4 linked regions of the Homo sapiens genome follow. Each later gene encodes a partner of the first gene's protein in a complex. Each region holds a gene or a part of one and is shown on either strand. Other genes may lie near its edges. The genes, in order: GTF2E2, POLR2D, GTF2H5 and GTF2F2.

Region 1 (7,027 bases):
ATAGCAGATGGGGAAGACCATTGACTAGTAAGGGTTATGTTCCTTACTTTATAATGCCAGTATGTGATAAGCTGTACTTTGCAGATGGAGTGGGCACTACTCAGTTCACTTTGTCTATTAATATTTGTAGGTGTTTTATTGATTCCTACACATTTTGACTACTAGAAGAATATGGGTTCAGCTTTTTTCAAAGTAGTTGTGATAAAATGGTTTATTTCTCTTCAAAGAATTTATGTAAATAAAACACAGTTTCTTTTATAAAAAGTGAGCACCGTGCTGATCTACTGTTCTGGAATTCTGGATGTCCAGGATTTTAGGCCTGCCAGTTTGTATTCATAAGGTACTTTTAATTTGCCACTGTATTGGCTAGTGTTGTATTTTAAAATAATTAGTAGAATTAAGAATGTGTATATGGGCTGGGCACAGTGGCTCACGCCTATAATCCCAGTACTTTGGGAGGCTGAGGTGGGTGGATCACCTGAGGTCAGAAGTTCAAGACCAGCCTGGCCAATGTGGTGAAACCCCGTCTCTACTAAAAATACAAAAATTCGCTGGGTGTGGTGGTGCGCACCTGCAGTCCCAGGTGCTGAGAGGGAGGGAGGCAGGAGAGGGAGGCTGAGGCAGGAGAATCGCTTGAACCCAGGAGGCGGAGGTTGCAGTGAGCTGAGATCACGCCACTGCACTCCAGCCTGGGCGACAGAGCAAGATTACGTTTCAAAAATATATATATATATTTATGTTCCATTTGTTAATATATTCCAATTGTATCACTGTTACAGGCTTTAGTCAACAATCCCAAAATTGAAGTAATAGATGGGAAGTATGCTTTCAAGCCCAAGTACAACGTGAGAGATAAGAAGGCCCTACTTAGGCTCTTAGATCAGCATGACCAGCGAGGATTAGGAGGAATTCTTTTAGAAGACATAGAAGAAGCACTGCCCAATTCCCAGAAAGCTGTCAAGGTAATCTCTCTTTTCTTTCTATGTCTTAATATAATTTGAATGAATAATGACTTCTTGGTTTTAAAAATATCAAACATTTTACAATTGTTTTTAAAGCTTCTATTATATACACATGGGTTACAGTGAGCCACTTGAAGGTTTGAAATTTGTCTTGTGCCACCTAGCAGGAAAGGGAGCAGCCATCTCTGTGTAACTTTGACGGGTTCTTGTTGCTGTTACTATATGATTGTTTGATTGTTCAGGCTATTTCTGGAAAATTTTCCTCAAAGGCAATAGAGTTTCTCTTGTAAGCTCTGTTTGTAAATAAGAGTGTCTTCTATAATACTAGTAGATGTTCCTTACCTGAGGAACTAGAGGCATTAAAACATGAAAGCATTGGTTAATAACCTGGCTGTTTTGAAGTCCTAAAGGGGCTATCTATGAAAGTCCTACTGATACAGATGACATTTCCAGTTTAAATTTGAAACTCACTGGGGAAAGCTGCTTGTTTCCATTTGTCACAGTTGCTCATTATTAATGTTAACTTGTTAAGCAGGTTCATTCATTTTGCTGCCTGTAGAAGAAAACTTGCCCCTTTGTCTCTTCTTCTTGGTAATGGAATTATACATGTCAGATCTTCTGGTATTGTACTACAAGTCCCTGAGGCTCTGTTTATTTATTTCAATTTTTTTTCTGTTCTATTAATCCATTGTCAAGTTCACTCACTTTTCTTCTTCACTTCCAACTTGTTAAGCCCAGTTGGTGAATTTTTTAATTGTATTTTTCAGTTCTAGTCTTTCTTTGTAAATTTTTCTTCTGGTTTCTGTTTCTTTGCTGAATTTTGTTTTCTTTTTTTTCCATTCGTGACAAGTATCTTTTGTTACACCCTTAAGTATGATTTCTTATAGCTGCTTTAAAATTCTTCTTATTCTAACAGCCGAGTCATCTCAGAGCTGGTCTGCATTGACTGTCTCTTTTATGGGTCATATTTTCCTGTTTCTTCATATATCTAATACATTTCTGTTGGGTCTTAGACCTTGTGGATTATATTAATATGTGTAAAGACTCAGGATTCTGTTACATTCCTCCCAAGAGTGTTTCTATTTGTTTTGTTTTGTGGTTAAGTGGGCAGTTACTCCAAACCTTGTCTGCCCTACAGCAGGTAGCATATGATATGTCTCTTCTGTTCTTCTAGCCTTAGCCCGTTTGCTTGGAATCTTGGAATCTTTTTCCAAGACTGGCTTATTTCACTTAGCATAATATTCTCAAGGTTCATCCATGTTGTACTTGCAACAGGATTTTCTTCCTTTTTAAAGCTGAATAATATTCCATTGTGTTTTTGTTGTTGAATTGTGGGAGTTTTAAAAAATATATTCTGGATATTAATTCCTTAACAGATACATGATTTGCAAATATTTTCTCCCATTCTGTAGGTTGCCATTTTACTCTGTTGATTGTGCTCTTTAATTTGCCAGTTTCTGAGTTTGCTGCACTCTTGTCTATTTTTGATTTTGTTGCCTGTGCCTTTAGTATCATGTTTAAATCACTGCCAAATCTAATGTCATGAAGCTTTTGTCCTATGTTTTCTTCTAGGAGTTTTATAGTTTTGGGTCTTAGGTATTTAGAGTTAATTTTTGTATATGGTGTAAGAGTCCAACTTTATTCCTTTTCATGTGGATATCCAGTTTTCTCAGTGTCTTGATGAAGAGACCGTCCTTTGCCCATTGAATAGTCTTAGTCTTGGTACTCATGTGGAAGATCATTTGACCATATATGTGAAGGTTTATTTCTGGGCCCTCTATTCTGCCTGTATGTCTTTCTTCATGCCAGCACTACAATGTTTTGATTAATGTAGCCTTTTTTTTTTTTTTTTTTTGAGACAGAGTCACACTGTCACCCATGCTGGAGTGCAGTGATGCAATCTTGGGTCACTGCAACCTCTGCCTCCCAGGTTCAAGCAGTAGTCCTGCCTCAGCCTCCTGATTAGCTGGGATTATAGGCACACACCACCACACCCAACTAATTTTTTTATTTTTGGTAGAGATGTGGTTTTACCATGTTGGCCAGTCTGGTCTCGAACTCCTGACCTCAAGTGATCTGCCCACCCTCGGCTTCCCAAAGTGGTGGCATTCCAGGTGTGAGCCACTGCACCTGGCCTGATTAATGTAGCTCTGTAATATATTTTGAAATCAGTAAGAGTGAGATCACCAATTTTGTTCTTTTTCAAGATTGTTTTGGCTATGTATTAGTCTATTCTTGCAATGCTATAAAGGAATGCTTGAGACTGGATAATTTATAAAGAAAAGAGATTGATTTGGCTCACAGTTCTGCAGGCTCTCCAGGAAGCATGATGCTGGTGTCTACTCAGCTTATGGGGAGGTCTCAGGAAACTTATAATCATGGCAGAAGGTGAAGGGGAAACAGGCTCATCTTACATGGCCGGAGCAGGAGCAAGAGAGAGTGGGGAAGGTGCCACACACTTTTAAATGACCAGATCTCATGAGAACTCATTATCAGGAGAACAGCACCAAGAGGGAAATCCACCTTCATACCAGTCACCGCCCACCAGGCCCCACCTCCAACATTGGGGATTACAGTTTGACATGAGATTTGATGGGGACACAGATCTAAACCATTTCAGGCTTTTTGAGGTCCCTTGAGATTTGATATAAATTTTTGGATGGATTTTTCCATTTCTGCAAAAAATGCCATTGGGATTTTGATAGGGATTACCTTGAATAGGTAACTTTGGGTAGTATTGCCATCGTAACTGTATTAAGTTTTTTAATACATGAGCACAGAATTCATTTATTCATGTCTTTAATTTTTTTTAGCAATGCCTTCAGGTTCTTTCATTTATTTTATGTATGTACAATTTGACTGTCCCTTATCTGTAATGCTTGGGACCAGAACTGTTTCAGATTTTGGGATTTTTTTCAAATTTTGGGATATTTTCATTATACCAGTTTAAACATTCCAGAGTTGAAAATCTGAAATCCAAAATGCTCCAGTGAGTATTTCTTTCTTTCTTTCTTTCTCTTTTTTTTTTTTTTTGAGGCGGAGTCTCTTTCTGTTGCCCTGGCTGGTGTGCAGTGGGGTGATCTCAGCTCACTGCAACCTCTGTCTCCTTGGTTTAAGAGATTCTCCTGTCTCAGCCTCCCAAGTAGCTGGGATTACAGACACCTGCCACCGTGTTCAGCTAATTTTTCTATTTTTAGTAGAGATGGGGTTTCACCATGTTGACCAGGCTGGTCTCAAAACTCCTGACCTCGGCCGAGTGCAGTGGCTCACGCCTGTAATCCCAGCACTTTGGGAGGCCGAGGCGGGTGGATCACGAGGTCAGGAGATTGAGACCGTCCTGGCTAACATGGTGAAACGCTGTCTCTACTAAAAAGTACAAAAAATTAGCCGGGCGTGGTGGCGGGCACCTGTAGTCCCAGCTACTCGGGAGGCTGAGGCAGGAGAATGGCGTGAGCCACCGTGCGGAGCTTGCAGTGAGCCAAGATCGCGTCACTGCACTCCAGCCTGGTTGACAGAGTGAGACTCCGTCTCAAAACAAACAAACTCCTGACCCCAAATGATCCTCCTGCCTCCCAAAGTGCTGGGATTATAGGTGTGAGCCATCACACCTGGCCCCCAGTAAGTATTTCTTTGGCATGTCATGTCAGCACTTAAAAAGTTTTGGATTTTGGATTCGAGATTTTGGGATTTGGGTTGCTCATCCTGTAGTTATCACCTTTTACCACCTTGATCTAGTGGACTATTATTTTTAAGCTACTTTAAGTCATTTTATGAATAATTTACATAAGTAAGAATAATGGGATGATGAAAACAGCTTTATTAGAGATTTTAGTAAGAATTTAACACAGCAAACTTCTGTATCAAGTAATTTTTGGAAAACACATCAAAAAGAAGAATACTGTCATATATCCTTTTAGCAAAGTGAGATGATAAAGATTCTTTTCACAAAATACTGTGTGATAATCTTCTGGTGAATAACGGGATGAGAATATTGTTTCCATTTTGTATTGAGAAGCATTTTGTTCGCTTGTTGATTCTTAAGCTTGAGAATCTTCACTTGAGTTATTGTCATCTAAAGACTCCATAGCTTGAGACTTTATTCCTATGATGAATTTTTGCCAGATAGTCTAGAGTGCTGCTATTTGGCTTTTTGCATTCATATTTTGATTCATCTAATAATTGTGAAATGTCTTTGGTCAGTTTTCTTGTCTTTGCTCTCAAGGGTAGAAAATACAAAATTTTTTTTGTCAGGTGTACTCAATGAAAGTTAAAAGACAACAAGAAGACTCTTCCAATCTTTTATATCTCTTGAAAAGGAGTAATGTAATCCTTTGGGCAATGCAGTAAGAAAACTGAAGGATGCCCATGTATTTCACTATTGCATCACATTTCTAGGTGATTTAATCATTCTTCTATTTTCTTATTATTTTAGCGTTTTAAAAGCACAATTGGAAATAATTGATGGGTAATGATGAGTAAGGAGCGAAATATCTCAAGGTAGAGGAAAAGTAAGAACACCAAGATTCTATTATGTGTCTTAGATTAGTGAAAGAGCCCCATGGACCCAAATAGTAATTGCAGCAAAGATTGAATTTTCCGTTTTAAGTGAAACACGTTTTATTTTTGTTCTTTGGAAGACCTCTAAGAATACAAGTCTGGAAATATCAATTTTTAAAAAATTGAACTACTCAAGAAAGAAACTCAAAAACTAAAATTGGGGCTGAGTGCAGTGGCTCACACCTATAGTCCCTGTACTTTCTGATGCTGAGGTGGGAAGATCGCTTGAGCCCAGGAGTTCAAGACCAGCCCTGGCAACATAGTGAGACCCTTTGTCTACAAAAAATTGAAAACATTAGCTAGACGTGGTGGCAATGCACCAGTGGTCCCAGTTACTCCAGAGGCTGAGGTGGGAGGATTGCTTGAGCCTGGGAGGTTGAGGCTGCAGTGAGCTGCACTCCAGTCTGGGTGGAGTCTCTTAAAAACAAAACTAAAACTAAAATTGGGTCCAGTGGACCTATGGTGGAGGACCCTATGGTGGTATACTGAGTGTGTTAAGGAAATGAAACTCCTTTATTGTTTAAATTTTTTTTTTTTTTGGTGAGGTAATTTGGAGTTAACTGAAAAATCTTTATTTTATCTATCTTTAAGGCTTTGGGGGACCAGATACTATTTGTAAATCGTCCCGATAAGAAGAAAATACTTTTCTTCAATGATAAGAGCTGTCAGTTTTCTGTGGATGAAGGTGAGCTTTTCTGTATTATACTTTAGTTTGCAAGTATATTACAATTTTAGGGTGGTAAAATTAATATTTATAATACAATTATAATTTAAATCTTATATTGCTTTTTTAGCATTATCATTTCTTAGAACACAGCCAGTGGCCCCTGTGTCTAACATATTGTTGCTTAGAATGCAATTTGAAATATGTGATTTGAAAGATTTTAGGTTAATTATACTTACAATCGCAGTTCAGGATTTCTTAATGTTTATAGCTCAACTGAACCAAACGGGTTTATTTCTTTATCTTTAGACTTTTACAAATGTAAGTTCATATCCTGATACAAAAGCTTGATACAGGATGGGAAAAAGAATAAACTTTTATTGGTGAATAGTGTTCTCTTATCTTATGAATCTTTCAGTTATCAAATTGAATAAGGAAGGAGATGATGTTTTTCTTTCTGGAAATTGTGGAGTTGGATGCTAAGCTGTATATTGAATCTCTTACTAAGTATATGATACGTATGTTTGGACTTTAGTTTTAAATTTTTGTCAATAATTTGTCATTAAACAAGGGTTTAGTGATGAAAAATGTATTATTCAAGTTTACCAATTGCCATTTTAGCAAGTGTTGGTGGTATTTTACTGTAAATTTGTATTACTTTTGAAGTTTTATAAAATGGCAGGAAAATAATTGGACATCAATTTAATTGATTTTGTGATTTGTGCAGTAACCTTAAGTTTTCCTTTTGTTATCTGTCTATAGATATCCAGGCTTGTGGTTCTGGTAGATAGGGCTTTAGTTTCCCTGAACTTGTTTTAGGAAATTGTATTTTTGTGAAAATCCC
Region 2 (7,027 bases), on another chromosome or scaffold:
AGCTCCTCATCTTCAAACCGTCCCTCCAAGCTACAAGAAAATGAAAAGAAATGAGTGATTTGGCGACTGGCAATTTCCCCGCACTCTTCTTTGAGGCGTGCTAATCTACTGCCCACATCTCTAACACCTTTACCTTTCATCTGGATTTCTTTTCCACTTTTCCTGATAAAACATTACAAAATATTTCAAACATATAAAAGATAAAAGGTATAAAAAATATACCTTTACAGTTAGCCCCACTTGACTTAGAGGTTTTTTTTTTTCTTTTTTTTGAGATGGAGTTTCGCTCTTGCCTCTTAGGCTAGAGTGAAGTGGCATGATCTCGGCTCACCAAAACCTCCACCTCCAGGGTTCAAGTGATTCTCCTGTCTCAGCCTACCAAACGGAGTCTTGCTCTGTCGCCCAGGCTGGAGTGCAGTGGCGCAATCTCGGCTCACTGCAAGCTCCGCCTTCCGGATTCCCACCATTCTCCTGCCTCAGCCTCCCAAGTAGCTGGGACTGCAGGTGCCCGCCACCACGCCCAGCTAATTTTTTGTATTTTTAGTAGAGACAGGGTTTCACTGTGTTATCCAGGACGGTCTCGATCTCCTGACCTCGTGATCCGCCCGCCTCAGCCTCCCAAAGTGCTGGGATTACAGGCGTAAGCCACCACACCCAGCCCTCACCCAGCTAATTTTTATATTTTTAGTAGAGACGGGGTTTCACCACTGGCGAGGCTGGTCTCGAACTCCTGACCTCAGGTGATCCTCCTGTCTCAACCTCCCAAAGTGCTGGGATTACAGGCATGAGCCACCACGCCCGGCCCTGCATTTTTTCATTTACTGTCTTCATGTTTTCTAATGGTATCAACCTCCCAAAGTGCTGGGATGACAGGTGTGAGCCACCACACCTGGCCAGAGTTTTTTTTTGGGACAGAGTGTCGCTCTATTGCCAAACTGGAGTGCAGTGGCGCAATCTCGGCTCACTGCAACCATCACCTCTCGGGTTCCAGTGATTCCCCTACTTCAGCCTCCCGAGTAGCCGGGACTACAGTCGCACACCACCACACCCAGCTAATTTTGTATTTTAGTAGAGATGGAGTTCCACCATGTTGGCCAGGATGGTCTCAACCTCCTGACCTTGTGATCCACCTGCCTCGGCCTCCCAAAGTGCTGGGATTACAGGCTTAAACCACTGCGCCCAGCCCAGAGTTCTTTAATAAGCAGGAAAAGTGGATGGCTGTGTATACTCTCCTAGACCAGTACCTTCCCTCCTTCCCCAGAAATAACCACCATCCTCAATTTAGTATTTATCATTGCCATACATTTAAAAAAAATTTGTTTTGCCATACATATTTTTATACTCACTACACATTTATGGATACGTAAATAATATGCAGCATAGTTTCAAACTTTATAAGAAATGGCATCATACTGTATTTATCCTTCTGCAATTTTTTTCCTCAAAATTCATTCTGGCATATGTTGATATTCCATGTGGTTCTAGTTCATTGATTTTTTTTTTACTGCTGTATAATAAACATTGTATGATTATACAATGATTCATTTATCCATTTTCTTACTGGCCAAGAGATTATCAAATTTCTGCTATCATTAGCAGTGGAGCATGAGGCTGGGCACCGCGGCTCATGCCTGTAATCCCAGCACTTGTGAGGCTGAGGCAGGCAGATCACTTGAGGCCAGAAGTTTGAGACCAGCCTGGCCAACACGGTGAAACCCCATGTCTACTAAAAACAAAACAATGCAGCAATGAACACTAAAATATACGTCTCCTTCTAAATTTGTGTGAGTTACCTTTAGGATATGTACCAGGAATGGATTTTTGGAACTTGGAGTATATTCATCTTTACCAGACATAGCCAAATCACTCTCCAAAATGATTGTTCTAATTAACACTCACAATCCTACCATCAGCGTACAGAAGTTCCAGCTGTTTCATATTTTTGCTATCACTTGGTGTGGTATAAAACCATCATTCTCACACACTGTTAAAAGGGCACTTTTGGCTGGGCACGGTGGCTCACGCCTGTAATCCCAGCACTCTGGGAGGCCGAGGCGGGTGGATCAACTGAGGCTGGGAGTTCGCGACTAGCCTGACCAACATGGAGATACCCCATCTCTACTAAAAACACAAAATTAGCCAAGTGTGGTGGTGCGTGCCTGTAATCCCAGCTACTCGGGAGGCTGAGGCAGGAGAATCGCTTGAACCCAGGAGACAGAGGTTGTGGTGAGCCGAGATCACACCACTGCACTCCAGCCTGGGCAACAAGAGCGAAACTCCGTCTCAAAAAAAAAAAAAAAAAAAAAAAAGGCACTTTCATTCAATATTGGCAATTATGTACCCAAATATATAACGCATACACATTTTAGACACACCAATTCTATTTGTAGGAATTTATCCAGTATACAGAGAACTTATCACAACTGGTACTAACCTTGGGATTAGAGCCTTGGACTCCTCAGCAGTCTCTGGGCAAAGGTTGGCCAAACAGGCCAACTCAAACTTATGAAGCTTTTTCTGGAGTAGCAAGCTAATCAAAAGGAAAAAAAAAAAATCAAAATAATCAAAAACAAATAAACAACAAAAATCAAAGAGTAATCAACAGGAAAAAAGGGATCAAACGTAGCTAGTATTTAAAAATAGCTAGACGGCCAGGTGTAGTGGCTCACACCTGTAATTCCAGCACTCTGAGAGGCCAAGGTGGGTAATCACTTGACGTGAGGAGTTCGAGACCAGCCTGAGCACCATGGCGAAACCCCGTCTCTACTAAAAATACAAAAATTGCCAAGGCGCAGTGGCTCACGCCTGTAATCCCAGCACTTTGGGAGGCCGAGGCGGGTGGATCAACGGAGGTCAGGAGTTCAAGACCAGCCTGGCCAACGTGGTGAAACCCCGTCTCTACTAAAAACACAAAAATTAGCTGGGTGCAGTGGCGGGCTACTCCCAGCTACTCGGGAGGCTGAGGCAGGAGAATTGCTTGAACCCGGGAGGCGGAGGCTGCAGTGAGCCAAGATCACGCCACTGCACTCCAGCCTGGGTGACAGAACTAGACTCCGTCTCAAAACAGACAAACAAACAAACAAACAAAACCAAAAAAACAAAAAACTAAAAAAATTAGCCGGGTGTGGTGGTGTGTGTCTGTAGTCCCAGCTATTTGGAAGGCTGAGGCATGAGAACTGCTTTAACCTGGGAGGTGGAGGTTGCAGTGAGCCAAGACCGCACCACTACACTCCAATCTGGGTGATGAAGTGAGACTGTCTCAAAACAAAACGAAACAAAACAAAAAAAAGGTAGAAGAGGCCAGGCTTAGCAGCTCATGCCTGTAATCCTAGCACTTTGGGAGGCCAAGGCAGGAGGATCACTTGAGTCCAGGAGTTCAAGACGTCTTCAGCCTGGGCAACACAGTGAGACCTTGTCTCTAAAATCAATGAATAAATACATAAAATAAAAATAGCTAAGGGAGACTTGACATGTTCCTAATACATAGAAATGATCAATACCCTCAATACCCTAACATACTCATTACACATTCTAAGTAACAAAATATCATATGTACCTCATACATAGGTACAAATACTATTATCTATCTATCTATCTATCTATAGGCTGGACATGGTGGCTTACCTCTAATTCGAGGACTTTGTTTTTTTTGAGATGGAGTCTCACTCTATGTCACCCGGGCTGCAGTGCAGTGGCACGATCTTGGCTGACTGCTACCTCCCTCTCCCGGGTTCAAGCAATTCTCCTTTCTCAGGCTCCCAAGTAGCTGGGACTACAGGCATGCGCTACCACGCCCAGCTAATTTTTGTATTTTTAGTAGACGAGATTTCACCATTTTGGTCAGGCTGGTCTTGAACTCCTGACCGCAAGAGATGTGCCCATCTTGGTCTCCCAAAGTGCTGGAATTACAGGCATGAGCCACTGCACCCGGCCAATCCCAGCACTTTGGGGGGCTAAGGTTGGAGGATCAATTGAGGCCAGGAGTTTGAGACCAGCCTGGACAACATAGTAAGTCTCCCCATCTCTAAAAAAAATAACAAAAAAAGTTACTTCCCCACTAACAGTACCATTTAGATCACACATACTGGACTTACACAAAATATGACAGATTCATATTTGAATCTGTTCCCAGACTGGAGTACAGTGGCACAATCACAGCTCACTAAAGCCTCAACCTCCCAGGCTCACATGATCCTCCCACTTCAGCCTCCCAAGTAACTAGGACCACAGGTACCTGCCACCACACCTGGCTAATTTCTGTATTTTTTTTGTAGGGACACGAGTTTCACCATGTTGCACATGCTGGTCTTGAACTCCTGGCCTCAAGAGACTGGTCCACCTCAGCTCCACAAAGTGTGGATTACAGGTGTAAGCCACCACACCTGGCTGAAATTCTGGTCTTCTAAGTTGCCCAGGTTGGAGTGCAGTTGCGCAATCTCGGCTCACTGCAACCTTGGCCTACAGATTCAAGCGATTCTCCCGCCTCGGCCTCCTGAGCAGCTAGGATTAATGGTGTGTACCACCAGCTAATTTTTTGCATTTTTAGCAGAGACGGGTTTTTGCTATATCGACCAGGCTGGTCTTGAACACCTGGCCTCAAGTGATCTGCTGCCTCAACCTTCCAAAGTGCTGGGTGTGAGCCACCATGCCCAGCCTAACATTATTTTACTTAAATTCACAAGTGACACCTGGGAAAGGGGGAGGGGACAGCATTCTACATGCAGTTGTCCAATGGTTTGGATTAATAAAAACTTTCTTTTAGCACTCACCTACGAACACTGGCAATGGTCTCTCTGTTTTTGAAACGACTGAAACGGGCTGTGTAGTTTAATGTTTTCATGAAGACTTCTGAGAGCTCCTGTTCGTCCTCTGCACTCTCATTCTGCTGCTTTCGATGTTCCAGAAGCATATGAACTTCTGAATTTAGAAGTGTCTCAGCTGTTTCAAACTCTATTTGTAAGAAGCATAAATGGCAGCTGAAAATACTCCTTCAAAAGTTTGCTTCTAAATGTTCACTGTGCATTTGAACATTTCTCTGCCCCTGCAGAAATCGAGGGGTTTCCTACTCCACATCTGCTTTTTTTTGAACTTTTATTTTAGGTTCAGAGTGCATGTGCAGGTCTGTACTACAGGGAAAATGGGTGTTGTGAAGGTTTGGCGAACAGACTATTTTGTCATCCAAGTGATAAGCATAGTACTGATACATAGTTTTTCAATCTGCACCACCCACCCCCTCAACTAGGCCTCAGTGTCTGTTGTTCCCTTCTGTCCATATGTACTCAAGGTTTAACTCCCACTTATAAGAATGTGAGGTGCTTGGTCTTTTGTTCCTGTGTTAATTGCTTAAGTGAATGGCCTCCAGCTCCATCCATGTTGCTGCAAAAGATATGATTTCGTTCTTTTATTTTTTTTTTTGAGACAGAGTCTCAATCTGTCACCCAGGCTGGAGTGTAGTGGCATGAATACAATTCACTGCAGCCTTGACCTCCCTGAGCTCAGGTGATGCCCCATCCCCATCTCGGCCTCCCAGGTAGCTGGACTGCAGGCACACGCCACCACACCCTGTGTGTTGTTGGTAGAGATGGGGGTTTCACCACACTGCCCAGGCTGGGATCTCCTTCCTTTTTATGCCTGCAGCTACTCCACATCTTTAAGTTCACCCACAGTTACATACCACAAGGCACAGTTACATACCACAAGGCACAGTGGAGTTCACGAGACACTAACATTTAGCTTGTCTGAGCTAGATTCTGACACCAAAAACCTGACCTAGACATGCTACTAAGTAATGACACATAGACTAGTTACTGATTTCAAGAGTACACTGACAATTCCTTCCCTCTAGCCGGCATCAGCTCATCATCTTCCTACTTCCATAATGCTAGTATTATACTCTCAATTTTAAGAATTGTTACATGTTAAATAGGGCCAAGTGTCTGGAAATAAATATAATGTACCCCAAAATCTATTTTTGTGCACACACAAATGTTATAAGCAATTTTTAAGAATTAGGTTTGAGAGAAAAAGAAACCCATGGCCCCTTTTCATAATATACGGCGACCTTCTACATTTCTACAATAGTTCTGTTAAAAAATGCTGTTACCCTTGGGAAAATCATTCTCTCCCTTACGTTCCTGCAGGATCTTATGTTCCTAATGTTTATCTCAAAGTATTAGAGATAGTTTTTATCTGCCTTTCTCTTAACAGTGAGTTCCCTTAGAGTAGGAACCATTCATAAACATGAATTCATGTTTATAACCCCACACTGAAGAGGAAGCAACAGTGAGGAAAAGCCAAAACGACTTGCAATTTCACATTTAGATGTGCTATGGGTCTGTTTACTATCAGGGAAATCACTAACACCTCCCTCAGAGTAATGCCTTCCCATTTCTCAAGCCAGGTAACTGACAAGAGCTTCATTTTCCTTTTACAACACAGATAGTTTTAAGTGGTGGGTCAGGAGGAAACTGTATTTTTATTTGAAAGGTACTCATTGCTACTAAATAGAATAGGCTGCCAATACAGTTGGAGCACTATTGAAATAAAATTAAAATATAAATTAAAAAATAGGTAACCAAAAACTGTTTTCTACCTGAGGGCAGGAGAGTTTAAACGAAAACCTCAGAACACCTTCTTTTTCAGTCTTCTAGCCTATAACAGGGGATTTACTACAGTGAGAGCCTATTTGTATACCAGGAAAGTTACCTCTTTTAATCCTTAACACTGAGGCAGTGTAGGTACAGAAGAAACTACTGCCTCACAGCAATGAGTAGAGGAAAAGGCATTATGTATCAGGACTGCAGAACCTCCAAACTCTGAAGTGACAGTAACAAATGACATCAGGCCAAAAAAAAAAAAAAAAAAAAGGGAAGCAGCAGCTAATCAGTTACAAATCTGTTTGTTGGAACTTTGATGCTTTTACAGGTCCTGGAAAAATCAATGTTAAGAGATGCCTCCCAGGCTAAGCGCAGTGGCTCACGCCTGTAATCCCAACACTTTGGGAGGCCAAGGCAGGTGAATCACCTGA
Region 3 (7,027 bases), on another chromosome or scaffold:
AAGCCCAGGAGTTCAAGACCAGCCTGAGCAATGTGGTGAAACCCCATTTCTACAAAAAATACAAAAATTAGCCAGGCATGGTGGCGTGCGCCTGTAGACCCAGTTAGTCAGGAGGCTGAGGTGGGAGGATTACCTCATCCCTAGGAGGTTGAGGCTGCAGTGAATTGGGATTGTGCCACTGCACTCCAGCCTAGGCAACAGAGTGAGGCCCTGTCTCAAAAAAAAAAAAAAAAAAAGTTTGAAGCGATTGATATTAAAGCGTTATTTCAGTGTTCACTGGCCAGTCATTCCTCTAAGCTGTCTCATTTGTCAGTTAGCATATTTCCCCAAGTGTGCGGAATACCATTAGTGTTCAAGATGATTTGAAGAACATACATTTTGGGGGAGTAGAATAGAAAAATAGGCCAGGCTCAATGGCTCACAACTGTAATCCCAACACTTTTGGAGGCCGAGGCGGGTGGGTTGCTTGAGTCCAGGAGTTCGACATAACAGAACCCTATCTCTACAAAAAAATACAAAAAAAATCTGGGTGCAGTGACATGTGCCTGTAGTCCCAGCTACTGGGAAGGCTGAGGTGGGAGAATCATCTGAGCCCAGGAGGTCAAGGCTGCAGTGAGCCGTGATGACGCCTACTGCCCTCCAGCCTGGGTGACGGTGAGACTCTGTCTCAAAAAAAATAAAGAGAGCAAAAAAATTTTTTATATGACCAGTTTAATTTATTTGAGGAGAAGAGGAAACTGACATATCAAACTCTTGGTTTTATGCCAGATGAAACGTTAGTTGATTTAAAGGCAATTTAAAGAAAAATATTAAGTGATTTGCAACAGAGATGTTACAAGAGATGGCTAAAATAGCAAGGATGGTATACAAATGGCAAACATTTTGAAAGCATTGGTGTGATGATTCAGCACAGATATGAGTCCTGAGGCGCTTCTTGGTTTTAGTGGTTTAGCTCTGACTTCATTAAGATGATGTAAATTTATTCCATTTAGAAAATTCCCAAAGTCTTCATAACCACTTAACTCTTGCTGCCTTTAATACCTGTTAGTAGTAGCCAGTTACTGAGAATAAATTGGTGTCATCTGAATGTACTGAGCTCAAACTGTAACAAGTTAATCTATCACATGCAGACAGCAATGTTTCAATGTCCAGTTTGTCTTTTATTACTGTTACATTTGGATCCAAAGTTTATTTTAAAGGGCTAACACAAAACAACTGTTGGTCCTGTAAATCAAAAAGTATCTGAGACAAGTCTCAATCAATTTTGAAGTTTATTTTGCCAAGGTTAAGGACATGCCCATGACATATCCTCAGAAGGTCCAGACAACTTGTGCCCAAGGTGTTCGGGCTACAGCTTGGTTTTACACATTTTAGGGAGACAAAATATCAATCAATACATGTAAGATGTACATTGGTTCAGTCTGGAAAGGCAGGACAACTCAAAGCAAGGGGAATGGGGGGCGGGCTTCCCGGTCATAGGTAGATTCAAAGATTTTCTTATTGGCAGTTGATTGAAAGAGTTATTATCTAAAGACCTGGAATCAATAGAAAGGAATGTGTGGGTTAAGGTAAAGAGCTGTGGAGACCAAGGTTTTATCACGCAGATGAAGTCTCCAGGTAGCAGGCTTCAGAGTTGTTTTTGTTTTGTTTTGTGTTTTGTTTTGTGTTTTGTTTTGTTTTGTTCTTATTAGACGAAGTCTCCCTCTTGTCTCCCAGGCTGGAGTGCAATGGTGTGATCTCGGCCCACTACACCCCTCACCTCCTGGGTTCAAGCGATTCTCCTTCCTCAGCCTCCTGAGTAGGTAGTATTACAAGCGCCTGCCACCACGCCCGGCTAATTTTTGTATTTTTTTGTAGAGACGGGGTTTCATCATGTTGGCCAGGCTGGTCTCGAACTCCTGACCTCAGGTGATCCACCCACCTCAGCCTCCCAAAGTGCTGGGATTACAGATGTGAGCCACCGCACCTGGCCCAGAGCTCTTATCAGACCTAAAAAGGTGCCAGACTCCCCTGGATCAGGGAAAAGACCTGGAAAGGAATGGAGAGTCTCTACAGAGTCGATTATTCCCACAAGAGACAGCTTTGCAGGGCCGTCTCAAAATATGTCAAAGAAACATATTTTGGTGTAAAATACAATTTCTTTCAGGGCCTGCCATCTGCCATGTGATGCTTTACAAAAGTCAAGCTGGAATTTGGTGTTTTATTCCTACAAAAAGTCTGTTACCTGGGTCTTAAGATCTCTGTTTTTTTGTTTGTTTGTTTGAAATGGAGTCTCGCTCTGTTGCACAGGCTGGAGTTCAGTGGCGCGATCTTGGCTCACTGCAAGCTCCGCCTCCCAGGTTCATGCCATTCTCCTGCCTCAGCCTCCCGAGTAGCTGGGACTACAGGTGCCTGCCACCACATCTGGCTAATTTTTGTATTTTTAGTAGAGATGGGGTTTCACCGTGTTATCCAGGATGGTCTTGATTTCCTGACCTCGTGATCCGCCTGCCTCGGCCTCCCAAAGTGCTGGGATTACAGGCGTGAGCCACCGCACCCGGCCAAGATCTCTGTTTTAATGTTAATACTGGTCAGCTATGCCTGAATTCAAAGGGAGGTGGGTATGAGGCATGCCCAACCCCCATTCCCATCATGGCCTGAACTAGTTTTTCAGGTTAACTTTGGAATGCCCTTAGCCAAGGGGAGGGTCCATCAGTCAGTTGGCAGATGGGGGGTGGGGTGCTTAGAACTTTATTTTTGGTTTACAATCCCATTGTGTAAAGTGTATACTAAGAAACCTCTATGATTTTTATAGAATATATTGAAGTACTTGTGGGGCCTGGAGAGTGAAGTGGGCACCACGGTCATATGAGTCCTCCCTTGTTTGCAAGGAAAGCTTAATTGTAGAGCACTGAAGTCCAGGTTTTTGTCTGACTCTCCCCTCCCCAGCCATCATACCTGTCTACTGTTGAATTACTCTCCTTTTATTCTCCCCACCAGTCCCTCCCCTTCTACCTTTATTTGTATGTGCAAGGAAGATTTGAGGGAAACAACTAAATTTTTAAAGAGTCTGAGTAGAAAAACAATGGTTTTCAAGAAACTGAAACTTTGGTTTCTCTGTCCTATAGGCCTCATTTTCCTTTCTGCAATATCATCGGGAAGCACCCTGTTTAACCTGCTTCATCAACCCCACGTTCCTTCTAGAATTGCTCTTCAAGCTTTTTTCTATTTTATGTTTCCACCTGTGCTCTTTGTCAATAATTAATCAATTGTTTACCTCTGAAATTTCTCAGTGTACAGTGTCTTACTGTTCTAGAAAATCTTTTCATTTAAATTCTTATTCTGTATAATACTCAAATTAGAGAATTGCTGAAAATGTGAAGTTTAACATTTTTTTGTATCTGCTTAAATCAGTGACCATTATGCTCTGTTTGTAAAATACCCCATTCATCCTCCTGTCACCAGCTGTTGTTGCCATTCAGTTGCATGTCAGTGTCATCCCGGAGATCCTCATTCTCATTAAGCCTTATATGCCGATTTTTCCTTTTTTTCAGTCACCCAATAAACCACAGACTCCCAAGCTATCTCTGTCTCTTGCATTTTCATGATCTATGGCCCTGTTCACCATCTCCTACCCACCACCCTCCCCCACCTACCCACCGCAATCCTTTCCACTTTGCCCTCTGGGACATAGTGAGATGGCAGCAGCAGGATGCCCTGTAGCCTCAGCCTCTTCTCTGAACTTTCCTTTTTCCTTCCCCCACCCACCTTTTCCTTTTTTGCTGTGACAAAACCTGACTTTGTCCTGAGCTCACTGCTTCTCCCACCACCTTATCAGGTGGTGCCTTTTTTCCTCTACAAAGGCACCCTCTTGTACCATTGGGTCAGGAAACAGGATCAGTACCTTGCTTATTATTGCCACTTCCAGAAATTCTCCCTCCCTCTTCCATAGAAACCCCCAGTTATCAATCCCAGATCATCAGAGTGGACTACCCACCAACCCTCCTCTTTATAATCATCTACAGACACCCCAATCTGTCCTGAAGGTTTTCCCTTGAAAAAACTATCTTCAGTAGCTCTTCTCTCAAATCCTTAGTGATGTTAGTATCCGTGTGGGTAGTCCTTTAGATACCCTGTTCTCCCAGTTCCCTGGCCTCCTCTTCCACTGAGCTTGTCCTCCACCTCATCACAGCCACTCATTCACATAGTTGTAGCTAGACCTATCCTTCCTTACCCTCGTGCCAGCTCTTCAGTCTCATTTCAGGCATCTGACTCTGACCACCACCTCCTCTTTCCAGTTCACTCCCTCTCATACCTCACTCCATCATTTCTTCAACTTCGCCAGACCTATGGTCTGTTGATATTCCCATCTGTTCAGAGTCCCACACCTCTTCCTAGCTTCCAGTCTACCTTTCTGGTCGTTGTAGCAAAATTTCTCAGTAAAGAGAAGACTTGGTTCTCTTCACTGTCTCTAATTTCTTTCCTCCCATATGAAACCCACTCCAGTCATGCTTTCCCTATTATGACTCCACCAAAACTGCTATTGCCAAGGTCCAGTGACTTTCTGAATCCAGGGATCAATTTTCAGCCCTTGCTATACCCTATAAGCCTTTGACAGAATTGATCACTCCCACTTCCTGAGTAGCCTTTGTTCACATCGCTTTCAGGACTCTTTGGGTTTTCTTTCTACCTCGGTGGTCACTTCTTACTCAGCTTCTTCACTCAGGGGCCAGTAGGCATCTCAAAATATAACATCAAAAACTAAACCTTTTTTTTTTTTAGTAGAGTCAGGGTCTCACTGTGCTGTCCAGGCTAGTCTCTAACTCCTGACCTCAAGCAGTCCTCCAGCCTAGGCCTCTCGAAGTGCTGGGATTACAGCATGAGCCACCATGCCCACCCTAAAACCAAACTTGATCTTACCTGCAGATCTTACACATTCCTCTTTATCTCAGTAAAAATCTCCTCCAGTCTTCCATTTGCTCAGATGAAAAATCTTGGAGTTTTCTTGTTCCTCTTTCTCAAAGCTCATGTCCAGTATTAGCAAATTATGTTGGTTTTATGTCAGTATATATCTAGAATTCAACCACTTCTCATCACCTCCACTATTACCACCTACATCAAAATCATCATCTCTTGCCTGGATGTCACCTCATGGGTCCCCTGCTTCCATCCTTGCCTCTGCCACTCCCAGTCTTTTCTCAACCCAGCAGCCAATATGATCCTTACAGTTAAAATTTAAGTCAGTTTGTAAGTTAAATCATGTCACTTGGTAAAACCCAAAGTCCCCCAAATCAGTTCTGAGGCTCATACTCATCTAGGGATAGAAGTAAATCCCGTGTTAGCATCAGTTAATACCTGTGCTTGTACTTAAATCTTATTTTTCTTGTTTTCAGTAAATTATAGTGACATCTTTTGGATTAAATTGTTACCTTTACAATTGATATTGACATTTCTCAAGACACCAAAAGATTATATGAGATTTTTTTCTCAAGAATTGCAAAAATCTGTGGTGCAGCTTGACATTTTTATATTCATTTTTTGCTAAACACATTGTGTATTAGATCTAAAGAGTGTCCTTTGTCATGATTCAAGGTTTTTATGAAAGAGACATTTTGCTGTAAATCTGTACTGCCCGAGAAGAAATTGTATCCCTCTTTTCCCTTATGACTATCCTATTCTTTCCAAACCAAAAACCACAAGTTAATAAAATTGAATTTGGACCTCTTTCCTTGAATGCCTATTACAAGCCAAGCACTGTCCTTGACATTATCTCCTTTAATTTCCGTAAACAATTCTGTTATGTAGCCTCACTTTTGAGGTTGGGAACAGAGGCTCTGGGAGATTAAGTACCTATTCTATTCAAGGTCACACAAGTAAGTGATGAAGCTGGGGTTGAATCCAGGTATGACTCTTGATATACACCCTGCCTGACCAAAGTGACTGTTTAACTGGTTTTGTAAGTTAATTTGTCACTGGTAAAACATTGAACACCTACTGGTTCCTTAGATGTAATGGGCATAGACAAGGAAGAAATTCAGTGTTTAAATCAGTTAAGAAAGCTGTGATTCTAGGCCCTACTAACTACAAAGCTTTCAATATTCTTTTATTTTTTCCACTTAGTGACAAATTATTCTTTAAAAATCTTGCCATTGGCCTCTGCCTCTTCAACTTACACTAATAGTTCTTTTTTTTTTTTTTGAGACAGAGTCTCGCTCTGTCGCCCAGGCTGGAGTGCAGTGGCACGATCTCCGCTCACTGCAAGCTCTGCCTCCCAGGTTCACACCATTCTCCTGCCTCAGCCTCCCAAGTAGCTGGGACTACAGGCACCCGCCACCACACCCGGCTAATTTTTTGTATTTTTAGTAGAGACGGGGTTTCACCGTGTTAGCCAGGATGGTCTCGATCTCCTGACCTGGTGATCCACCCACCTCGGCCTCCCAAAGTGCTGGGATCACAGGTGTGAGCCATCGCACCCGGCCAACTTACACTAATAGTTCTAAAATGAAGCCATGTCTATAAATTGTTAACACTTGAGGCAGAGAGGAAGTGAGGGATTGAGTAACAGAACTTTAAAAATCATTCTAAAAATTCTACATGTTCACATTTAATTGCTCAAGTCTCTGTGATGTGATTTGACAACAAGCTGTCTTACAATCATGTGTTTGTCTTTACAGTGATCCTGCCATGAAGCAGTTTCTGCTGTACTTGGATGAGTCCAATGCCCTGGGGAAGAAGTTCATCATTCAAGACATTGATGACACTCACGTCTTTGTAATAGCAGAATTGGTTAATGTCCTCCAGGAGCGAGTGGGTGAATTAATGGACCAAAATGCTTTTTCCCTTACCCAGAAATGAAAATACTCAATATGGACCATTTAGGAATTATAAGCAGCAACTGTGAAAGACTTGCCACTCAATATCTTAGGTGACTGATTAGACATAGAGGGTTGTTTTAGGAGCATGCCACGGGAAAGACTGAGGGATCATGATCATTTGTTCAGAAAAAAAGCCCCTGAACTGATTTTGTTACCATAGAATTTAAAAAAAA
Region 4 (7,027 bases), on another chromosome or scaffold:
TTACAGGCGTGAGCCACCGCACCTGGCTTACAGACAACATTTTTAAGAGTTTTTGTTTACTACAGATTATGTAGTCAGGATACCTTGAAACTATGCTTCCAGGTGGCTATCCTCAAGCTTTGGGCTCGAATAAACTATATAGTTAATTTTATTTTCTGAATCTCATTACTTAAGATTGACATATGCCTGTCAAGGACAATAACTACCATGGTTTCCAGTGCTTTGATGAAACCAAACGCCATGCATCTGAGGTTTTATGTTGTTGGAGCATTCATTGCATCCCTGGGGGTTGCAGCTCTCTGTAAGTTTGCTGTGCTGAAGCAAGAAATAAGGCATATGCAGATTTCTTCAGAAATTAGGATTCCATGAAAGATATTGAGGAGATGAGGAAGGCTGGTATCTTTCAGAGTGCAAAGTGGTTTGGGAATATAAAGAATTTGCTTGGATTGAATCACATGGAAGTTTGTCACTGACTTGTGTTCGTGAACTATGAAACACGAATATCTAGGCTGAGAAAGAGTTCGTCTTGATAAGTAAACAATTAACAAATATTTCGGACAGGAAGAAAAAAAACAGTTTTTGTTCACTAGGCAAATGTAGAGGTAGGCTGCAGTGCCCCCAGGAACTAAACCAGTGATATACATGTTAACACAGAAAGATAAGCATATATTTTTAGTCTGTTTTTCTAATTTTAAAGAGAAAGCACCAACATTAACTTCAATTTGAGATTGAAGCATGTAAACCAAGATTTTTTTTTTATTTTTTATTTTTTATTTTTATTTTTTTATTTTTTTATTTTTTTGAGACAGAGTCACTCTGTTGCTGAGAGTGGAGTGTAGTGGCACGATCTTGGCTCACTGCAACCTCTGTCTCCTGGCTTCAAGCGATTCTGCTGCCTCAGCCTCCCTAGTAGCTGGAGATACAGGCGTGTGCCACCACGCCCAGCTAATTTTTTTGTATTTTTAGCAGAGACTTGGCCGTGCTGGTCTTGAACTCCTGACCTCAAATGATCCGCCCACTTTGTCCTCCCAAAGTTGCTGGGATTACAGGCGTGAGCCACTGCGCCTGGCCCCATGATTTTTGAAAAATCTGGGTAGAATTCGGTAATTTTCTTACTACTCATTAATGTTACTAATTACAACTTAATCCGACCCTTACTCTTATCCCTAGTGTTGATTTTAAAGTTCTTTTCTAATTTATTAATTTTTACCTTTGATTCAGGTCCTCTTGCATCTGACATGTGACTCTGGGTTGGGACAACTTGATAACAACACTTAAGTTTTCTCTCCACAGCCAACTAGAATGTGCGCCCTCTGTAAAGTAGGTTATCTTACTTTACCAGTGGGCTTATTTGAAAACATTTTTCATGTTAAACTTCCTAGCTTCTCCAATCATTTTACACAAGAAACAGCCTACTGAAGGTGGAAACTGAGTATACCATCACTTCTCTGCTATTTCCTGAATTTAACTTGAGACTGAGGCCAGGCGTGGTGGCTCACGCCTGTAATCCTAGCACTTTGGGAGGCCGAGGCGGGCGGATCACGAGGTTAGGAGTTCGAGACCAGCCTGGCCAACATAGTGAAACCCTGTCTCTACTAAAAATACAAAAATTAGCTGGGCATGGTGGTGCGCACCTGTAATCCCAGCTACTCGGGAGGCTGAGGCAGGAAAATCACTTGAACCCAGGAGGTGGAGGTTGTGGTGAGCCGAGATTGCACCACTGCACTCCAGCCTGGGCAATAGAGTGAGACACCATTTCAAAAAAAAAAAAAAATTGAGACTGGCTGGATTTCAGTCTTCCCTAACAATACAATCTGTGTCATTCATTTGCATTTTTTTTAAGCATGGTGATCTTGTCCTAGGTAGCTCTTTGTCCATTACTGCATTTAAAATGCTCAAGGCCCTCCCCTCTCTAATCATTTTAATCCATTTAAAGCCGTTTTAGAAAGAAAAAGCTGTCTTACTCTCCCCATATCTTAGCGCAATGCCTAGCATATAGTCATGCTTAATCTGCTGAAGCTCAGTGGAGTTTGAGTTTTACTCCCAGTTCGTACATATCAAAAAATGAAGATGATTGAGTCCTTTCCCTTTGTCTCACTCCCAACTTTATTTAATTGAAAAGTAGATACTCAAGGTTTTCAGTTACCTTTTACCACTAATTTGACAGTCTCTCATAAGACATATTTTTAGTTTTAATATCAATAAATCAATAGAAACTAAATTTTATCCTTTTATAACAAATCTTTATTGTTAAAATAGAGTAAGCTAACTACCTGAGGCTATTTGTGGAATAATTTATTTGTAAGTTTTTAAATGTATCCCATTGTTTTCGAAGCTAGTCCCCAGATTATAATTATTCCAGCTGACCCACAGGACATTCTTCTCTGGCAGTTTCCACCCAACCTACTGATGCTTTCTTCACCAGGTTGGCCCCTTCAACAAGTTTCTGATGGTTTATACAAGTGAAGTGTTCCTAAAAAGAAACAAACAAATATCTCAATTAACTAAGTAATAGAACAGAACTTGCATATTTTAAGTAAAAAGGGTGATGTTTTACAATTGAACAGTCCCAGGATGGTAACAGTAGGAGGGAACTTCTTCATTGTGTTAGTGCCACTGCTTTTTAAGCTGGCATGCATGGAGGTACACAAAACTGCAGAATAAACATAACACATGGTCCTGAAGTGTCATTTTTATTTGGATAGTAGATACTGTATTTTTTACTTCATGTTAAAAAATAAAGATGTATTATACAGGTGAATTTAGAGGTCACATGAAGTTTTAAATGGGAATTTCAGAAAAATGGTTTGCTTGTGTCTGAGATGATAAGTATATAATTACCCCTTTCTCTTGTTAAACTAACTTTTATTGTATGGGAAGAGAAACAGGTTCAAGGAGGTTGCACAGGGTCAGGATGAGAAAAGGTCCATGTCCTTTCCTTTTTACCAATGCTTCCCAAACTTTTCACTCCGTAAAGAACCCGTTTTATAATCTGCCTGCCTCCAAGAACCCCACATTTGAAAGATGTTACCTATGAAACTGCATCTGTTAGATAAACTGTTTTACTGTTAATCAAAAACAAAAGCACTACACGTTAGAGTTTTCGATCAACACAAGATAACCAGTTAACCGCACTGAATTGATACAGTTTTGGCAAAAGGCCTTTTTGGGGGGAAATGTACACATTATGCATTACATAAAGCTTTAGGGGATAATGAAAGTGACTGGAATTATTACTAACTTAGAGCCTTAAAGATACGGGGACCCCAGGAGTAACAGGTCCCAGGTTCTGAACTACTGTTCAGAGGCCTGCTGCCTCGAAACTTACGATCTAGTCGTTAATGGATGACTCAAAAGAGAATGCCTGGGCAAGCACGGTGGCTCACACCTGTTATCCCGACACTTTGGGAGGCTGAGGCAGGTGGATCACCTGAGGTCAGGAGTTCCAGGCCAGCCTGGCCAACATGGTGAAACCCCGTCTCTACCAAAAATACAAAAAATTAGCCAGGCGTAGTGGCGGGCACCTGTAATCCCAGCTACTCGGGAGGCTGAGGCAGGAGAATCACTTGAACCCAGGAGGTGGGGGTTGCAGTGAGCTGAGATCATGCCACTGCACTCCAGCCTGGGCAACAAGAGCAAAACTCTGTCTCAAAAAAAAAAAAAAGAGAATGCCTGTGTTTTAGAGTGAGCATGTTGAATTGATGCTTTTATTTCCTTTGCTGTTTGCATATAGATCGAATATGAAAGGAAAAAGAAAGAAGACGGAAAGCGAGCTCGAGCTGATAAACAACATGTTTTAGACATGCTATTTTCAGCCTTTGAGAAACATCAATACTATAATCTTAAGGACTTGGTGGACATCACAAAGCAACCTGTGGTATGTATATGTTCATACTGATCCTTTGAATATGCCCTCCTTCATTAACACGACATTACTGAAAGTGTGTCATACATGATTTAGTTCACATTTACCTATGCTAATGACTAATTTTATGACAACACTCAGAAAAGATGTCTTAATGCAGCCATTTTTGGTAACATCAGCTTTTATTTTACATTTTAGTACTCTTAATAATTATTTATGAAGAAAAGAAATTATCCTCATGTTCATTTATTCTTGACATTAAGCCTGAAATCTGTTGATACCATTTCTGGTCTTTATTTTGTTTCCCTATCTTCCTCTGAGAAAGTTTAACTCCTTCCCTTTTTTTGGAAAACATGCCTCATAGAAAAATCGCATTCTTTAAAGAATTATACTGTTTTGTCATTGTGGGAGGGTTTATCCCTGTCTTGTGAATTGTTTTCTGTGGATTTTTTTTTTTTTTTTTTTTAATTAGAATCTGTGTAGGTCCTTTTAAACCTGAACTGAACTGCACTTTCAAATTATGCTTGCAGAGATTGTGATTAGGTTGGCCTGTTCCCCATTTTTAAGGACAAATTTAACAAATTCGTATTTTAGAAAGTTTATGTTTGTTTTATAGTCATTTTTATCTCTTCTCTAGGCTTTTGTGCATTTACTAGTAATTTGCATTAATAATCCATTTAAAATGATGATAACAATAAGAAATTCAAATTCTTTTTCTAGTCTTTGAGTCACATTGTTTTCCATTTAACTTTCTCCACCACATGTCACCAAAGTATCAGACTGAGTATTTACTTATAGGTTTAAGAAAATTGAATGGAAACCCTTTTATCTCATTTCCTTTACCATTTTGTCTACTCTGCCGGTATACTCAAGAATCTGTTGATTCTTGCTGCTCCATTTATTGGATTCAGAATATGTAACAATAACCAATTTTAAAAAACATCTTAACATAACCAAATAACCTATTTGTGAAAGGACTTGATTTTTTTTATTTATACAAAGCTTTAGGAAATGATTTATGAAATTTTAATGTTCATTATACAGTTTCTCCTGCAGATATTTCTTTACTATTATACATCAACCCTTGCCTTTTGTTAAGAAATTAATTTGAATTCCAAAAGATTTACTTTTTAATAAGAAGAAAGTGCTCATGGTGGAGTATTATCAATTCATCCCAATGACTTCACTCCCTTTGGCATCAAAGCCTTAGAAACAGCATTCTAAGCTAGATTAAAAATTTTTTTTGAAATAGAATAAATAACTCATTAGCTAAGCTGTGTTTCTTCTGGTTTTAATGAAATTTATCTTTGTATTTATATATATAAATATATCTGTATGAAAAGACCCTTCCAGAAACTCTGAAAACAGACGAGATTCTCATGGAATTAAACACAAAAAATTAGATATGGAAAATAATCACTTGTAGAGGGGCATTCAGATGATACTAGGGAAAGCAGTTTCTTTGCCTTCACATGGGATATAAGGTTTATTCATTTTGCATCAAAGAACAAGTATTACTAGTGTGTCTTTTGGTTTTGGTTCTTAAGATATTTTTTATATGGTAGTACTCAGTGAATCTCTTACAACAGAGCTTCTTAATTCCTAACCAGTGGATGGACTTAAGGGGATCCATTAACTTCCTGAAAATCTGCAAAAATGTATGAATTGTTCTGGGGAACATATCATCCATAGTTTGTATCAGATTCTCATAGAAGCCGCTGATCTCAAAACTAACTTTTTAAATAATAGTTTTATTATTTAGAGACTAAATTGCCTCAATAAGCATAAGATTCCTGAAGGCAGAGTTGTATGCTATTCCTATCCCTAAATATTCATATACCCCATAGTGTAAAAGATGGTAAAAATTCAGCAAATATCTCATGAATTGATTTGAAAAAAGAAAATCCTCAGTCTCCAAGGGCCACCATATTTTCTTCAGATGGATTTTGGCAGGCCTCTCACGTCATTTATAGTGAGGTTGGGGCAAAGAGCCAGTGCCAAGAAAGTGTGGAATGCCTTCCCCAGGCTGGGGGTAGGCCAGAGGTAGTTACCTCCTCCTAGAGGAGAGGGCAGGAAGTGGTCAGCATGGATTCCAGTCCATTGACTGGGAAAGAAAGTTGCCAAAGTCTAGCTCTCCCCCAAGTAGGCAACTATCCCCCTTTAAAAGGATTCGAGGACATAAGTGAATCTGTACTAATGGTCATCAGTACCCAAGAGACTTGAGGAATCTATTCTAGCATGAAGATCAATGGTCCAGGAAAGGGGGTGTTCTGGTATAATGGAAAGAACCTGGATTTGGAGTATGAGATCCTAGTTCAAGTCCCAGCTCTACCATTTAGCCAAATAGTCCTGGACAAGGTACTTAAATACATTTAATACATTACTTATATTTAGTTCACTTAACATATGTAATAATATAAAATTTACCAATATGTTCAAATTATAATTTATTTTGGGGGTGGGGTGTTTTGTTTGTTTGTTTTTGAGATGGAGTTTTGCTCTTGTTGCCCAGGCTGGAGTGCAATGGCACAATCTCTGCTCACTGCAACCTCCACCTCCCGAGTTCAAGCGATTCTCCTGCCTCAGCCTCCTGAGTAGCTGGGATTATAGGCGCCCACCACCACACCTGGCTAATTTTTGGATTTTTAGTAGAGATGAGGTTTCACCATGTTGACAAGGCTGGTCTTGAACTCCTGACCTCAGGTGATCTACATGCCTCAGCCTCCCGAAGTGCTGAGATTACACGTGAGCTACCGTTCCTGGCCAAAACCTTCATTTCTATAAGTAAAATTATTGGCTAGAGAAACTTTGCTTAGGGCCCGTCTTTTTCTCTTGTTTGCCAGTATGTGACTTACATAAGCAACTAGAAAGAGTGAAAGTTACTCATCAAGGAGGCCAAGCTTTGGTAACTGATATAAAGTCGGGGACATAGTATCCATTTAAAGATATATTATCTTAGTCTGTTTTTTGTTACTTATAACAGAATACCTGAAGCTGGGCAATTTTTAAAGCAAAATAATTTGTTTCTTAAAATTTTGGAGGCTGAGAAGTCCAGGATCAAAGGGCCACGTCTGGTAAGAGGCTTTTTACATCGCTTAGTGAGGAGGCTGAGCGTGCTAGCTCAGGTCTCTCTTCCTCTCCCTCTTTTTATAAAGCCACCAA

What was found.
Region 2: GTF2E2 (region 1) and POLR2D share a complex: the UniProt entries of both Homo sapiens proteins name them as parts of the TBP-based Pol II pre-initiation complex.
Region 3: GTF2E2 (region 1) and GTF2H5 share a complex: the UniProt entries of both Homo sapiens proteins name them as parts of the TBP-based Pol II pre-initiation complex.
Region 4: GTF2E2 (region 1) and GTF2F2 share a complex: the UniProt entries of both Homo sapiens proteins name them as parts of the TBP-based Pol II pre-initiation complex.

The regions. Positions count from the first base shown.
Region 1 is NC_000008.11:30,606,234-30,613,260, reverse strand, and holds part of GTF2E2 (transcription initiation factor IIE subunit beta), read left to right. Parts: intron 1-779; coding exon 780-962; intron 963-6,110; coding exon 6,111-6,204; intron 6,205-7,027. UniProt on the Homo sapiens protein: Recruits TFIIH to the initiation complex and stimulates the RNA polymerase II C-terminal domain kinase and DNA-dependent ATPase activities of TFIIH. Both TFIIH and TFIIE are required for promoter clearance by RNA polymerase.
Region 2 is NC_000002.12:127,848,156-127,855,182, forward strand, and holds part of POLR2D (DNA-directed RNA polymerase II subunit RPB4), read right to left. Parts: intron 4,951-7,027; coding exon 4,770-4,950; intron 2,531-4,769; coding exon 2,435-2,530; intron 31-2,434; coding exon 1-30. UniProt on the Homo sapiens protein: Core component of RNA polymerase II (Pol II), a DNA-dependent RNA polymerase which synthesizes mRNA precursors and many functional non-coding RNAs using the four ribonucleoside triphosphates as substrates.
Region 3 is NC_000006.12:158,185,324-158,192,350, forward strand, and holds part of GTF2H5 (general transcription factor IIH subunit 5), read left to right. Parts: intron 1-6,653; coding exon 6,654-6,834; 3' UTR 6,835-7,027. UniProt on the Homo sapiens protein: Component of the general transcription and DNA repair factor IIH (TFIIH) core complex, which is involved in general and transcription-coupled nucleotide excision repair (NER) of damaged DNA and, when complexed to CAK, in RNA transcription by RNA polymerase II.
Region 4 is NC_000013.11:45,263,500-45,270,526, forward strand, and holds part of GTF2F2 (general transcription factor IIF subunit 2), read left to right. Parts: intron 1-3,733; coding exon 3,734-3,877; intron 3,878-7,027. UniProt on the Homo sapiens protein: TFIIF is a general transcription initiation factor that binds to RNA polymerase II and helps to recruit it to the initiation complex in collaboration with TFIIB.